2 linked regions of the Homo sapiens genome follow. The protein of the gene in region 2 purifies or fractionates together with the protein of the main gene of each other region. This does not show direct contact. Each region holds a gene or a part of one and is shown on either strand. Other genes may lie near its edges.

The links.
Region 1: the proteins of MYLK2 (region 2) and FBXO11 purify together in Homo sapiens (affinity purification with mass spectrometry; 4 studies listed by BioGRID and IntAct, with this or other methods). This does not show direct contact.

The regions. Positions count from the first base shown.
Region 1 is NC_000002.12:47,903,344-47,910,943, forward strand, and holds the start of FBXO11 (F-box only protein 11), read right to left. Parts: upstream 3,156-7,600; 5' UTR 2,378-3,155; coding exon 2,146-2,377; intron 1,996-2,145; exon of another isoform or gene 1,750-1,995; intron 1-1,749. UniProt on the Homo sapiens protein: Substrate recognition component of a SCF (SKP1-CUL1-F-box protein) E3 ubiquitin-protein ligase complex which mediates the ubiquitination and subsequent proteasomal degradation of target proteins, such as DTL/CDT2, BCL6, SNAI1 and PRDM1/BLIMP1.
Region 2 is NC_000020.11:31,813,837-31,822,355, reverse strand, and holds the start of MYLK2 (myosin light chain kinase 2, skeletal/cardiac muscle), read right to left. Parts: upstream 3,001-8,519; 5' UTR 2,928-3,000; intron 2,824-2,927; 5' UTR 2,776-2,823; coding exon 2,724-2,775; intron 2,231-2,723; coding exon 1,810-2,230; intron 918-1,809; coding exon 619-917; intron 1-618. UniProt on the Homo sapiens protein: Implicated in the level of global muscle contraction and cardiac function. Phosphorylates a specific serine in the N-terminus of a myosin light chain.

The sequences.
Region 1 (7,600 bases), on a different chromosome or scaffold from region 2:
GCAGAGAAGCAACAATTCTACAGTAAATTTCATTTACCATTTGGTTGGGTACATACTGAAATTTGGATTCATGAATATTGACAGTTTATAGACATCAATGAGAAGAAAATTGACACTGGCATGTGACTGCCAACAACCAAGTCACCTTACCTCACATAGAAATGAAAATAGACCTCAGTAGCTAATAATTTTGAACAAATGAATAAAAGTGTCCAAGACAAAATTACATCAACTAAGTTCGAAATTACACACAAACCTTGAAATGAAAATTCAGAGTAAACATTTTAAAATACACAAGGAGACTAAATTGTTTGACACGTTTTGATCCAATGCTAATATTATTAACCAATTACCACATCTTGAAAAAGCTTACTGTAGCAATAGAATCCTTAATATTAAAGGCTAGAATTTCAATCGAGTGTCATTGTTTTCTCAAACATATTTGTCAGCTGTACTGCATACAGTGGCAATTCTGGAAGAAGAACATTATTTGAACGGAACATCAGAAGAACACTGATAGACATATGTGAAAGGAAATAATGAGACTACAGATTTTTAAAATTTACCCCCAAAATGGTAAATGTATCAAAGAAATAAAACACTTTTACCAATTATGTTGCACAAGATCTCCAACTGCCTTGAAACATCACATTCTTTCAAGCAACATATAGCAAACTGCTTTCTCTAAGACTACCTTTAACAGTGACTGGTGAAAGCCTTTTAAACTATTTTCCGATTAACATCTCCCTCCTTCATTTGTTAAATATTGTGATCAAGTATAACAATGAAACCGTTTTTAAGGAAATAATGTATAATTTTAAAAAACATTTAATCTCAATCCCTTTAACCAATGGAGGTGTGACAACAAACGCATGTAAAATTAACCTTAATCCGCCAACTAAAACACGCAAAATGTCTCCTAACAATTCTCCTCCTCCTTAAAACAACAACCGTACACATAAATACGGTTCTGACCTCTACCACTACTGCGAACAGCTAATTAATAAAGAGAATGGTTATGTTTGGAGACCAAGGTGCAACACCCCCCCTCATAAACCTCCCAAAATAACCACATCATCCAAGTAGAACTGAACATTATTTTTGCTAAAGCAGGATTTCAACCTCGGGGAGCCTCAGCCCTTAGACAATGGTGGTTACCAGACAGTGCTAAACAGTTGGGTCCAAATGACACATTTCACTAGGCCTTGGACACAACACACACACGCGCGCGCGCGCAAACACACACACACACACACACACACACACACACACACACACAAAATATCCCAAGGGGCCAGTTCTAAGCAAGGGGCGTTCAAACCCCACTAGGAGACGGAGAGTAGCACCGCGGCATGGGGGGTCGCTCGGGGAGGACAGGCGAGGGGGTGTCGATAGAGCGGAAGGGTAACTGCACTGCACACGAGGGAGGGGGCTGGAAATGGCCGATGGATTCTATATTTATTTATTTAAAGGTCTTGATTTAATGGGTCCTTCCCAGGGGTTCGTAACTAAAGACAAACTGCGCAGCAAACACTGTGGGGTTGGGAGAGGAGTCGCTGCTCCCCCTACCCCGTGACCAGGGACGGGGGGGCGGGGGAAACAAGTTCCCCTGCCAACACCACAGACCACCCCGATTCCCCTCTCCCGCTCCTCCTCAGGAAGGGGTAGGCTAACACAGAAAAGAGGGGGAAAACAAGTTCCCCAGCCAACCCCACCACCCGATCGCTCCCAGTCGCTCCCCCCACCTACCACTAGAAAGAGGCAGACTAAACCATGGAAGGCGGCAGAAAAGGGAGAAATCACGCCGCTCGCCTTCCCCCCGGCCACCAACAGACTCCCGCGGGGTCTGTGAGCGAGCGGAGAAGCCAAAGGGATGGGTGGGGGTGGAGGGTGCTGAGCCCCCGAAACCAAACAAAGCGCGGCCTGAGCGAGAGCCCAGGCGAGAAGGGAAGCCGCGGCTTTTCCTGCCGGCCGGGCCCGGCCCGGGCTGACACTGCGGCACCGGGGGACCCGCCTCCGCTCAGCTTGGGTCTCCCACCCCCAGGGCGCGCAGGCCGCCCCCGCCCGCCCGCCCGCCCGCCCGCCCCGGCCTCCCTTCCCGCGGTGCCCGGGAAGGCGGGCGGTTGGGAGGTAGCGCGGCCTTACCCCGCTCGCCGACGTTGTTCCGCTCCTGAGGCAGCGGCGGAGGCGGCGGTGGCGGCGGCGGAGGCTGCTGCTGCTGCTGCTGCTGCGGCGGCGGCGGAGGCTGCTGCTGGGGCGGCTGCTGCTGGGGCGGCTGCGGCGGCGGCTGCTGCGGGGGCTGCTGCTGCTGTTGCTGCACCGGGCGCGGCCGCGACACTCGCCTGGGTCTCCGGTTGGCGGCTCGGACGGAGTTCATTTGCCGGGCTGAGGTGGCGGCGTTGGCGGAGGGACACACACACGCACACGCACAGCGAGCTTCGGGGCAGGAGAAAGGGGTGGGGAGAGTGGGAGAGGGGGGAGGAAGGAGAGGGGGCGAGGGGAAGGGGAGACGCTGAGGGCGGAGGGGGCGAGCGGGACCCCGAGTCCGGAGAAAGGCCCGGGTAGACAGACGGAGACCGAGCGAGGCCGGCCGGGAGGGCCTGACGCACGGGGAAGGCCGAAGCCGCCGGGCGGGGCGGCCGCGAGGGACGAAGGCAGAAAGACGGGCAGACCGAGAGAAAGAAAGAAAGGGCGTCCGCCGCTTGGGGATCCCGAGGCGAAGCGCGGCGGCGGCGGCGGCGGCGGCTGAAGAGACAGATCCCGGTCCCGCCGACTCGCGAGCGGCGTCTCCGGCAGCGGGGGGAGTGGGCGGGCGGGTGAGGAAGGGAGAAAAAGAGAGGGAGAGAAGGGAGGGAGGGAGCAGGGGGCGCCCGGCTCTTTTTTTTCCCTCTTCCTCCCCCCCACACCCCCTGAAAGAGATTTCTGTGAGGAATTTTTCTCTCTTTCTTCGGTCTCTTCTCTCTCCTCCCCCCCTTCTCTCCTCGGCGAAGGGGAAATGAGTGTGAAGGGAGGAGATAGGGGGAAAAAGAGGCGTCGTCCTTCCTCCTCCTTAAAGGAACCTTTCCTCCTCCTCCTCGTCAGCCCTGTCGCCGCTGCTTCTGCTGCTGCTCCGTGGCAGGAGGAGCCATTGACACCGCCGGAGCCTCCACTCGCCCAGTCGGTCCCTCCCCGCCGCGGGGCTGGCCGGGGGCGCGGGGGAGGGCCGCGGGGCGGCGGGGGGAGGGGTGGGTGGGCGGGGAAAGGAGGGGCGGGGATTCCGTCCAGGCGGCCAATCTAAGGCGCCCGTACAACCTTCCGGCCAATGGGGCCTCCGCTCTTATCGCGAAGTCCCTTCAACGCCCTGTTTCCTCTCTCGGGTTTCCTCCCTCCCCCGCCTAGGAGGGGGAAAGAGGAAAGGGGGAGTGTGGCGGGGCGGGTGATAATGGGGAGGTATCAGGGCAAATAATAGAGCAGGGGGTGGGCGAAGAGAGCGCCAGTGCGTAGCGACGATTCTGGGAGAGGAGGTGCTCGGAGGAAAGGGCGGGGGTTGCTGATGTAATGGGGAGAAGTGATTAATCCTTCGGTTCGCCGTTTCAGCTTCCCCCCTACCCCAACCTTCACCCGATTTTTTTGAGCTGAAAAAAAAGTGGAACGAGGGAGCCAATCTTTGGTAACTCGGGTTTTCTGTGGTAGGTGGGTTCAAAATCTGAGCTGTAGGGAGCGCTAGAGATTTCGTGCCCTTTAGCCAAGCTGAGGGTATTTGCAAACCCTGAAGATTTCCGTCTCCGAGCTTTGGGCTTGGTAAGCGAAGTTTGGAGTCGGTGCCTAATCGTATATCATCTAAACCTTGAAAAGGCTTTGACCTTTGGCCAATTTGATTTGTTCTTTGAAGAAGTGTATACAATGTGTGGGAAAATAATATGTGAGAGGAGAGAAGTAAATGTGTTGATGTTGTGATTGTTTATGTGATTTAATTTTTAATTTTTTTTTTTTAGGTCCCACAAACTGCAAGGAAAAGAAAAACCCTCAACAGGAATTACCTTTATACCTGATGCCCCCAACATAATCTCTCTCCAAGGGAAACGTGTTTTTATTGCCTTGCGGCTGAAAATGTATTCTCGATTCTCCCCCTTCTCTCTTTTGTTGTGCATTTTTTGGATGTGGTAAAACTGGCAGTTTATCTGATTATCTGGTTTTCAGAACTTTGGGCGATGTCTCTGAGTGTCATCAGTTGCTCTCTAGGTTTGACATAGATAATTAAGCAACTACAAAGCGTGATAAAGCTTTTGAGAGGGAGGAAAATGTATTTTGGAAGGAGGGAGAGACGCAAAGAGGCGAGCCTGTGTGTTGAGTCCCAGACTTGGTGTGTGACTACAGGCAAAGTACTTCACCTTTCTAGATGTCAGCCCCGCCCCCCTCACCTCCCAAGTTTAAATAAGAACTTATTTTAGACTACATGATCCTGTTTTCAATTTTTAAGAGTTCTGTGATTTTGAGATGATCTCTCTTTAGTCCAGAAAAATAGAGAAACGTAGGTCTATGTTTGTTTCTCAAAAAAATATTTGAGGAGGACAGCTGTTACAAAACAGCTGGAGAACTCCAAATTTTTATGGTGGTTAGCTAGGTGCAAATGGGTACAATTTTAGGTTTGTTCAAATAAACATAGGGGAAAAGTAAAAGTACAGGAAAATTACGTTATACATATAAGTGTGTCCATCATTTCTGATTTTTCTAAAAATTTACTTTTTTATTTGACAAGTACTTTTTGGCTCCTTCCGTGTATGCATTAATATGTATATAAGGTGTTATGGGAAATACTAATAAAAGGAAAATATTGGGCATAAAGAGTTTGTATTTTGGTGTGGCAGAGTGGAAGTTTTACTTACATTAATTCAGATGTAAAGAAAATGTAGCTTGTTTATTTTCTGTAATTTTAACTTCAAGTCCCCACATCATCTCAATTTTTTAAAAAACATAACTGCTTTCACCTTTTATTTCCCCAACTCTCCTTCTAATATATTAATGGGAGGGGCGGGGTTTAGGGTTGTTATATGTGGTATAAGGGGTATCTTTTACATACCCTAGATTTCTAAGTTTATTGCAACAATTCTCTGACATATGGCAGTAAAATGCCTTGTTTTAGCAAAATTAGTATATTATGACAATTTCCTGATAGATGGTAGTAAAGTGTCTTGAGAAAGGAAGCACCTTTTTCAAATTCACAGAGTAACTGGTAGGGTGGTAGCATCCCTGAGGAATAGGGAGGTTTACAAGGGCATCTAAGCCACTAATGCCAGTCCTTATGTTGTCTTCTGGCGTGGAGTGGCTAGTATTGTCTGATGGCAGCCACTGTCGTTTATCATTTATTACTCATAAAACTGGTCATTTCTGTACTTTTGAGGCTGATTTCTTTTGCTGAAATCCATACATGAGCCATTTGCCCCATACACTATAACCTCTTTGTACTGACCCCGAGTCTCCACAGGTCCCTTGATCCTCATGGTTCTCACTGAGACACATGGGTACTTCTGGATTCCCCGAATACCACGTGTAGGCCTTGATGAGCCAGGAGCCTTGCTTTGGGCTTACTAGTTGTTGAGCCACTATCCAACAATGTTGCATTTTTCTCCTTATGTCATATTGAACATGCTGGCAGGCTGAAAGTAGAACTCCTAGACGTCTTAGTGTTTCACAGACATGTCCAGGGACGCAAACCACTATCTCCAACTTTCTTGGATTTCCCTATGTCTCTGTGCATATGTCAACTACATACCCTCAATTCTAGTTTCCACCCTGAGAGGGGATGGAAAGTAAGCACACTGAGTCTGATTAACCTCTTCCTTGTACCCTTTTCTTCTTTCCATCATGCCCCAGGGTTTTTAAGGAATGGATTTTTCTCCTTCCCATTTGTCAGGAACTTTCCTTCTGTACCGTATCCTCTTCATTTTTGAGATTTGGCATTTCTTCTGCTCCCTTTCTTGGAGCCGTGATAGCTGATGAAGTGCTCAAGAGAGAACCCAGTTTAACAATAATGGAACACCTATTGGGAGATATTAAAAAATATTATCCTATCCCTACATTACTGGTTTCTACATATGTTTAGTTTATTTCAGGGATTAAATGTTGAAGTCATCTTTGTGTAAAAGTGTTCAAACTCAATTGTGGAACTTAAGAGTTGTCAGGACGGACCTTGGAGATCATTAAATCTCATTTCTGTATTCAACAGACTAGGAAACTAAACTCCAAAGAAGGGAGGTGACAAAACTATAACTATTTGGTAGCAAAGCCACTGTCTGCCAATCCAGGGCCCTTTCCATTCAGAAGCATTGTAGACAGTATTTTGAGTTCTGGTGAGAACCCAAAATATCCTGGAAGGTTTTATCCATAGGCAGATCCACCTATATTAGTAAATAATTCTGTCAATTAGCTGTCATAAAAGTTATATATGTTAGAAAACAGGAGAAAAATTTAAAAGGATTTCTTTTAGGGGTGGGAGCCACCTAGAATTATTTCAGTAATACTTAGCATAATTTCAGAGGACTGAATTCCCTCAGGGTTTGCTCTCTCTTCAAGAACATTTGTGTTTGTTTTTCTCAGCTAATTACTGGTGCTTAAAAGGTTAGTGTACTTAAAATTATTTGTTTATAAAACCTATCACAATAGCAGTGTGGAAAAAATAAGCTCTTTAATCATTTTAATACCTGGCAGGTGATATTTACTGTGATTCTTAAATTATAATTTTACCATTTCAAAGATTCAGCTTCCCTTTCCTCTGTCATTCTATCATCTAGTCCCAAGCCGTCAGCACTTAGTTACATAAGACACCTCAAAGCTGCTCACTCCTTTTATGTCATTTAAGAAATTAGTTTGATCTGAATATGGTTTCCCTGCAGGAATAACCAGCTCTGTTTAAAATATTCTTGTTAAAGTATGAATGACTTATCTCACTAAGCTGCAAAAATTCATTCTTCAGTACATGCCCAGATAATTTTTTATCAGTTAGGTAGTGAAAATTAACTCGGAACTAAGGATTTAAATTTAACGTATATGTGGGAAAACCTGGTAAGCACACAATCCAATGATACCCAGAAGTTATCTTTAAAGAATTATAGAATCTGACTTTAATACCTTTCCCTGTGAAGTAATACAGAACGCTATTAAAAGAAATCAATTTTGTTCAAGTTTTAGGCTGGACTGTGATACACAGTGGTAAATCTTTGTTTTTTAAGAGCAGAACCAATTTCTTTTTATTATTATTATTATACTTTAAGTTCTAGGGTACATGTGCACAATGTGCAGGTTTGTTACATATGTATACATGTGCCGTGTTGGTGTGCTGCACCCATTAACTCGTCATTTACATTAGGTATATCTCCTAATGTTGTCCCTCCCCCCTTCCCCCGATCCCACGACAGGCCCCAGTGTGTGTGATGTTCCCCTTCCTGTGTCCAAGCATTCTCATTGTTCAATTGCCACCTATGAGTGAGAACATGCAGTGTTTGGTTTTCTTTCCTTGCAATAGTTTGCTGAGAATGATGGTTTCCAGCTTCATCCATGTCCCTACAAAGGACATGAACTCATCCTTTTTTATGGCTGCATAGTATTCCATGGTGTATATGTG
Region 2 (8,519 bases):
AGCTACTAAGCCTGGCATTTGAGCCCTTCTACAGATTGACTCCAAATTCCATTGCCCAGGGAGTTTGTGTTGCTCCAATAATCTGCCTGATTTTTCTTTTTTTTAACTTCATTTTAGTCAAAGTAGAAAAAACTCAAAAGTGGGTTCTGGAGTCTGGGTGGCCTGACAGGTTCAAATCCTGTCTTCACTGGATATGTTTGGGCACTTCATTTTCCTTTTTCTGAGCCTTCCTTTCCCCATCTATCAAAAGGGAATACTAAATTTAAAAATAAAAATACATCTTAAAAAATAAGATTGAAGAAAGCCAGGTATGGTTGTACACGCCTGTAGTCCCAGCTACTCGGGAGGCCAAGGTGGGAGGATCACTTGAGGCTGGGAGTTTGAAGCCAGCCTGGGCAACGTAGCAAGACCCTATCTTTTAAAACAAATAAACAAATGAATAAACATACGTTAAAAAAGGAATACTTTCTGGAGTTGTGTGACCCTTAGATGAATGGGCCTGGGTAAGGCTTGGCTCAGGGCAGTTCAGACCTCCGAATAGGTAGACTTGGGACTGACAGCCCCCTTCCCTCCCCCTGGCCCCAGGGCAGCCCCAGCCCCCACCTGCCCCTGGCCTACCCAAAATCTGGAAGCAGTCCTCCTCCCTGGCTGTGAGACAGAGGGCCTGCCCCACCTCGGATTTCTCTGAGGGAACAGCCTGGAACTCAATCCCCCTCGAGGTGTCCCCTTGCATCTTAGCCTGGCCAGCCTGGCCTGGGGTTTTCTCTCCCACTTCCTTCTGGCTCTCTGCCAGGATGTTCTTTCCTTCTTCTGCCTTGGCTGGCCTGGGATCCGTGGGGCTGTGGGTCATGGGCACCCCTTCAAAGGTGAGCTCTGATGCCTCGCTTGGGGGCTTCTTGGCCAGCAGCTTCTCAGAACTAGAAGGTGAGAACACAGAGGTGAAGCCCTCAGCGGCCACAGCCTGTGGCATCAGGCAAGTCTCAATGCAATCTGCAGAGCTAATCCAACCCCACCCCAAATGCATGGTGTAATACAGCCAAATTCACCTGGTACAAAATTAAGGGATGTTCATGGCTGTGGTCATTATCTTGACTACCAACACACTAATACATCATTAATAACTATTAATAGGATTGTTGATATGGTTAATCATCATGTGGATACAACTAGGGAGTTATGTAGCTCTTGATTCATAAAATCTGTTGTGATATAATTGATACATAATTATCAAAGTGATATGGTAAATGTTCTTATTGTGGCTTACAATATATCATTAATGACCTCATTAGCATTCAGGTAAGTATAACTGATGGCATCACACATGTGCTATATTATGGTTATGAAAATATTATCAATGATCCTCCAATCTGGTTATTAGTCATCTTTTCATATCTTACCAATAATTATATTAAGAAGAACAGGAAAATACTGGATGTCCTAGGAAATACACAGCCTTTTGCCTGACACCTTTAGCCTTTCTGCCTGCCATCTCAACCCTGCCCTTGGCTAGACCCAAGCCCATGGAGTAAGGGGAACTTCGGACCCCAGAAGCCTAGAGAAGATATGTTCAACCTAGGCAGTCTTTGAGGGTCTCTCTTACTCCAGTCTTGTATGAATTGTGGCAGGGTTCTGGTTTCTGCAGGGGACAAGGCGGTAGAGGCAATTCACAGGACAGAGGAAACTGAATGTCAGAACTACACTCCCCAGCACTGAATGTGATGATAACCATGCCTAAGACAAGGGAATTAAGCAGGACCCCTAGGGACAGAACCACAGGACCCCTCCCCACTCCCAGGAGGGGATATTCACCTGGAGATGATGGCAGGACAGCTGGGGCTATGCAGAAAGGCAGGTGAGCCCCTCCTGGCTGCTGCTTGGCCCTCTGCTGCCTTCTTGCCCACCCTGGGCTTTCCAGGATCCTGGCTGCCTGAGGCTCCCTGCTCAGCCTTGGGCTTCTTGACGCTGGTCTCAGGTGTCGCAGTCTGCTGGGGCAGGGCTGCCGGGGGCCCAGCACTGCCCTCCGCGGGCCCCCCGCCCCTGTCACCCTCTCCTTTGGGGCCTTGGCTGCTAGTTGAGGGTTGGGCCAGGGTACCATCCCCTTTCTCTGAGGCAGGGGCTTTGGCATCTTTCTTCAGGGTGGGTGGATCCGGAGCTTTCTTTGGGTCTGGGGGGCCAGGGTCTTTCCCTGCAGCCAGGGGTCTTTCACCTGTGGGACCTTTAGGTGCCTTGTCTGCAGAGGAGGTGAGACACCCATCAGGATCCACCCTCCTTTCCTTCCCTCTCACCCAGGCTGGGCAGAGACCAGCTCTGGGCCCAGGTTCCCACCCAGGCAACAACTTGCAAATGCTTGTCCCACTGAGTCTCTGGGGCCACTTGATGGCCCCTAGAGATGAGCTGCCACGACCTTGGAGGGCCTCTGTGGGAGGCTTCCAGCCCTTTGGGTGGGCCTTGGTGGCCCCCATCATCCTTGCCCTGACTGTTTAGGTGCATCCCCAGCAGCCATCCCTGGTGGCTTCACATTTTCCTGGTCTCTCCAGGAAGGGCTTCATACAGGCCCTGGACCCAGCCCAACCCTAGCCAGAGATTCCTCTGATTTCTGGGTCCCCCGTGCACCATGCAAACAAGGCTGGGGCACAGAACTCCCACTGAGGAACCTGCCCAGTCCTGGATTCAAAACCCCCCTTCCCAAGCTCCTCCCTCCATCTCCTGCCCCAGCTTGGCACCTGTTGATGGGTTCTGAATTCCCAGCTCAACTGCTCCATTTTCTGTCGCCATGAGGTAGGGAGGCGTGTGCTGCTGCTTGTCTAACTCAAGTCTTTCTAGCTGCAGAAACAAGAGTGGAGTGTGTCAGGCTGTCCAATTTCCCCTCTCGTCTGGCTGCAGTGAGACAGGAAGCCGAGGCCTGCTAACTGAGGGGAGAGAGGTACCTGGAGCAAAGAGGGGCAACCTGGTTGCCGTCTGTCTCCCAGCGGCTGCTCAGGAGCAGTCCTGGGCAGTTGTAAGGGATTGGGCCGGGTGGGCAGAGGCGGAGGCAGGGGTGTGGGCAGTGGAGGCGGGGACGGAGGAGAGGATCTCTTACACCAGGGGCCATGCAGCTGGGACTGCCGCCACCTGTCACTCTTGGCCCCAGTTCAGAGGACACGGCATTCTTCCCATGGCCCGACTGGGGGGAGAATGATGTTGGAACAAGCGAGAAAAGGGAGGGGTATCTGGGACGCTGGGGGAGCAGCCCTTTCCCCAGGCCTTGCTCAGTATCCCTGACTTGGACAGGATCAGAGGGGGCCTGGAAGAAGGGGAGTACTCAGGCAGGCCTGAAGGGCAAGAGTATGCCCAGGCTGAGCCCTGGTCTGCCCACCTGTGTGCCACATCTCCTGGGGCTCCCCAGAACCTGGCTAGAGCCACAAAGTCCCAGGGATAATCTCCCTGACCCTAGTGCCTAGCTCTGTGCCTCGACATCTGGACCTGCTTGCGTCACCTTTGGGTAAGAAATTGTCTCGGGGGCACTTTCTCAACATGTCCATAGGCCTGGAAGCTTTTTCTTTTGAAACTGTCCTTTTCTTGGGCTCCTGGGGACACGGAGGCTGCCCTGAGTAGCCATGGGAGATGGAGAGTGCTCTGTGCCCCTCCCCCAAGCTCATCCAGTTCTCACCCATGACCCACATGGAAGAAGGGGGCTGGCAGAGAGTCTTTTCAAGGATGCTCCACTACAGGGGTGGCCCGAGGGGCACTCTAGCCTGAGGTGTTCGAGATAGGATGAGGACAGCTATGATCCAAGGAGCCTTCCATCACCCAGAGCCTTTCTCAGAGGGGGCTCTTGAGAACTGGCCAGACCTGGGTGCATTAGAAGTAGCTGTAGAGGCCAGAAGCAGTGGTTCACACCTGTAATCCCAACACTTTGGGAAGCTGAGGCAGGAGGATCACTCGAGGCCAGGAGTTGGAGACTGGCCTGGGCAACATAACAAGACCCCGTCTTTATATTTTAAAAAGTAAGATAAAATGAAGTAGCTGTAGAGTGGTTATCCAGGTTCAGGTCCTGACTGCAGCAAACCAGTCACTTCACTCCATGGCCTCGGCTCCTCTGTCAAATGGGAAGCCATTGGAAAAACGCTTGATGAGAGAAAGGAGGGAGAATGCAGCCCCTCTAAGCAGTGGGGAAATAGGAACCTGTAAAAAAAGATTGAGGAAGCTGTTAATGAACTGACAAAAAGTGACCACCAAAGTGGGGGGAATAAAAAAAGCAAGATGCAAAGTAGCATGTAGAGTGTGCTATCCATTTGTGCAAAAAAAAAAGGGAGAATAATATATGAATAATATATATTTCACTTTATGCACATAAGAATTTATTTGGTAGGATAAGCAAGGAACTGGGCCCCAAGGGTGGGAAGGAGACATCACTGTATATACTTTGACTTTTCTGTTTGAACCATGAACTATGTGAACAGGCTACTATTCAAAATGAGTGGGATGTTTTGTTTTGTGAGCAAATGTCAAGGGTTTTTGGTATAAGCTGGTAAAAACCATAGTTGGAGCTCTTTCCCCAGTCTTGACTACTTTTGCTCTGCCTGGCCCTCCTCTCCAGGCCCGGTCCTCCTCTCCTCCATTTCTCTTCTTTAAGGTCCAGTTAACAGTCTGCCTCTTCCAGGAAGCAAAAGTAACAGCTGATGCCTATACGGTACTGACCACGTGCCTGGCCTCGCTCTGCATGCTCTCATGTTGATCCACCCAAATGGTCTTCAGAAGAACCCAGTGCGGTAGGTACTAGAGAGATGGGGAAACCAAGGCATGGAGAGGTTATGTAATTTACTCAAAGTCACAGCTTGGAAGGGGCTGAACTGAGCTCTGAACCCAGGTCCCCTGCAGAAAGGGAGCTTCCACTTGCTGAGCACCTGTCATTCGTTTTAGCCATCTTGCCTTTAAGCATCATCTTGATGATAACTCTGTGGGGAGCGCTCATCTCATTTTCTGCATGAGGACGAGGAGAGTTAAAGGAATCAGTAGCTTGCCCAAAGTCACTCAGCAAGGAAGGGAGTTGAGCTTGGAATGTCGTTCTTCAAACTCCAAAGCCCTCTTCCCTTCCTAAAATGTCCCAGCCTGTGCCTTGCCCCCTTCTCCCTGCTGAGTAACCCCTTTGTGGATCTTGCAGCATTCAAAAGGTTGAAATGTTTCCTGTCCTAATGCGGATCATTAGGACCTCCTGGCCCTCTATCTGGCCCAGAGCATGTTTTAGTTTAATTTGGAATGTTGGGTCCCCTGCTTCTGGCCTCCCCACAGTGCCCCAGCTGATCCCACCATTGGTTGACACTGTCTGGGAGCCCCCTGAAGGCCAGGGGCTAAACACATCCCCAGCACAGAGTGGACTTGCCCATCAGTGTCTGATGAGTAAATAACTGATTAACCAGAAGGCTCCAGACTGGAGTTTGTTACCTCCCTATGCTGGACCTTGCTGGCATCTCCTTGTTATTATTGTGGTTATCAATACCAGTCATTTATTGAGTGCCCACCAACGGCCAGGCCAGACTATGCCAAAGATCCAGCTCCCTGGATCCTCAGAAGGGACTGTAGGGGCCAATGTTACACCATTTTAAAGGTGTGGAAACTGATGCTCACAGAGGGAAGTGGCTTGTCCCCACAGTCACTCAGCTAGTGAATGGCTTCAAACTACCCACATTCAAATCCAGAGCCACCTCCCAATGAGACCAAAATCCAGCCTGGGACAACTTCAGGGGCATTAGTGCTACTTTTGTTATAATTATTATTCCCAAATAATTACTCTTATTGAACTCTTTCTAAAATGGACCAGGCCCTGGGGTAAGCAGCTTCATGAGTATCCTTCCTTCGAGTCTTACAACTCCCTACCATGCAGTGATTAGGAGATCTGTCAATGAAGCGCTGCGACCAGTAACTGTGAGCTTGGAACAATGTCTTCACCTGTTTCCTCATCCGTAAGGAGAGCATCTGCCTCCCAGGAGGTAGATAAAGCATTACAACAGTGAGTGTGAGCATAGCGAGTGCTGTATAAATGTCAGCTCTTTAATCCCCATTTCACAGATGTGACAGGAAAACTGAGTCACAGGGCAAAGTCATAGAGTTGGGATTGGACCCATCTAACCCAAGGCTCTGCTCATAACTGCTCTGCCCCATTGCCTCCCTCTCACAGCATGGCTGCGAGCATTTAGCCAGCACACATGTAAAGAGTGCCCAATGGCACAGTACCTACAGCACTGTGGGGGCCTGATAATGTCGTGGACACCCCAGGTAGAGGGTTCATCTGTTCCCGCCAGCTCCCCTGCAGTGCCTCCCACTGGGATGAGAGTCTGGCCTGGTTCCGAATCTACGGGACTGCCTGCTCCAGCCAGCTGCTCCCTGGGAGTCCCCAAGCTTCTCAGCACTCCCTTGGAGGCACAGGGGTGGGGCACGGGGAAACTTCCTCCACCCACCTAGGGGCTGCCAGAGCCCCTGCCCACCCTCAAGAAGGGGCTTCCCCGCCCTGCACCAGCTGTGCAGACACCCTCTTTGCCTCTACAGGGGCAGGACAGGAAGTGGGGCAATGCCAAGACCAATTAAACCCGCCAGGGGAATTAAGGTCAGCAGGATGCAATTATGCCTGTTGGATTTAACAAGGCCAGAGGGAAGGTTTCTCCAGCCAGAGTTCACGGCTCCTTAGGCCTCTTGCCCTGTGTAGCTCTGCCTTCCAGGAGCCTAGGCTTCCAGGCTCACCTAGCTCTGGAAGAATGTGTTGGGGGTGAAGGGGTTAACTTCACCCAGGCACTGCTTCCTTGGCTCTGGAGAGGAAATCAGTTCAGCCAAGAGGCTTTAAAAGGACCTGTTCGGAGAAGTCATGCCCAGTCTGACCCTCTCCCTGCCCAGCTGTGATGGAAAATCCAAAGAGTTGAGCAACAACCTTTCTGACTCCAAAGAGAGCAGCCAACTCCCCTCACAGCCTTCCCTCTGCTCCTGTTTGAGAGCCACTCAAGGCTGCATTAGCACGTTGTTTTCTCTCGCCCTCTCCCACCTTGGACCCCTGAGCCCAGGGCCTTGGCAGGACCTCTCAGGCCTCTGGAAAAGCCCTAGGTAAGGTTGCTGTCCTTACAGCAGACCCTGTCCTTCCAGCCAAGCTAGTAAGCAGAGGTCTGTGGGCGTTCTGTGTGCAAATTGGACATAGGTTTCTCCGAAAACGCAATTGACACACTGTTCCATCCCACAGTTATAGAATTTTATTGCTAAGATTAATTACTGGGGGCTCTACTGTGACAAGGACTAAACTGGTCACTTTCAGGACACAGAGATGAAATTGGGGGAGAGCTATAGAATCACTGCATATTACATTTTAGGTGAAAAAAGACTATAAAAATCAACCATGCCTGTAATCCTAGCATGTTAAGAGGCCGAGGCTGGAGGATCACTTGAGCCCAGGAGTTCACGACCAGCCTGCGCAACATGGTGAGACCCCATCTCTGCAAAAAAATTTAAAAATTCGCCAGGCGTGGCAGTGCACACCTGTGGTCCCAAGCTACTCAGGAGGCTGAGGTAGAAGGATTGCTTGACACCAGGAGGTTGAGGCTGCAGTGAGCCATGATTGTGTCACTGCACTATGGCCTGGGTGACAGGGTGGGCCCCTGTCTCAATAAATAAATTAAATAAAAATCAGCCATAGAGCGGGATCCTTTTTGTTCAAAATATTTACAAAGAAGATGGCTGGAGGGATATAAATGGACATATTTACAGGCGTAGAAATAGAGATTATTTTTATTCTTTATTCATCTAGATTTTCCAACTTTTTTGGAAATGACTTGTAACTCTTAATCAGATCAATAAGTAATTCCAAATATATCAACGTGGACACAGATTTCTTCAGAGAGAAAATGGTAAGAGCTATAAAACACCATGAAAGGACTTCTTGGCTCAGGGCCTCAGAGAACTCGCAATTCAGCTACTGCAAGGCTTTCTCAGTAACTAAGCCCCAGAGTTGGTTTAAAATGAAGCCTCCTGGCTGGGCGAAGTGGCTCATGCCTGTAATCTCAGCACTTTCGGAGGACAAGGCAGGCGGATCACTTGAGATCAGGAGTTCAAGCCCAGCCTGGCCAACATGATGAAACACCATCTCTACTAAAAATATAAAAATTAGCCGGGCATGGTGGTGAGCACCTGTAATCCCAGCTACTCGGGAGGCTGAGGCATGAAAATCACTTGAACCCAGGAAGCAGAGGTTGCAGTGAGCCAAGCTTATGCCACTGCACTCCAGCCTGGGCAATAGAGCAAGACTAAGTCTCAAAAATAAAAATAAAATAAAAAATAAAATGGAGCTTCCTTGGAATGAGGCCCCAGAAATGTCTATAAACCAGCATTTCAGGTGATTTTTCATGCACATCCAAGTTCAAGAACCACCAAGTCAGAGAGCCAGCTCTCTAGAAAGCATCCTGAGAGCCTTGGAAGAGGGAACAGATTTGAGGCACTGTCCTGACAGTCACCCTGGTGCAGTCAGTGGAGAGCTTCCAGGATTCATATCCCTATAACCCAGG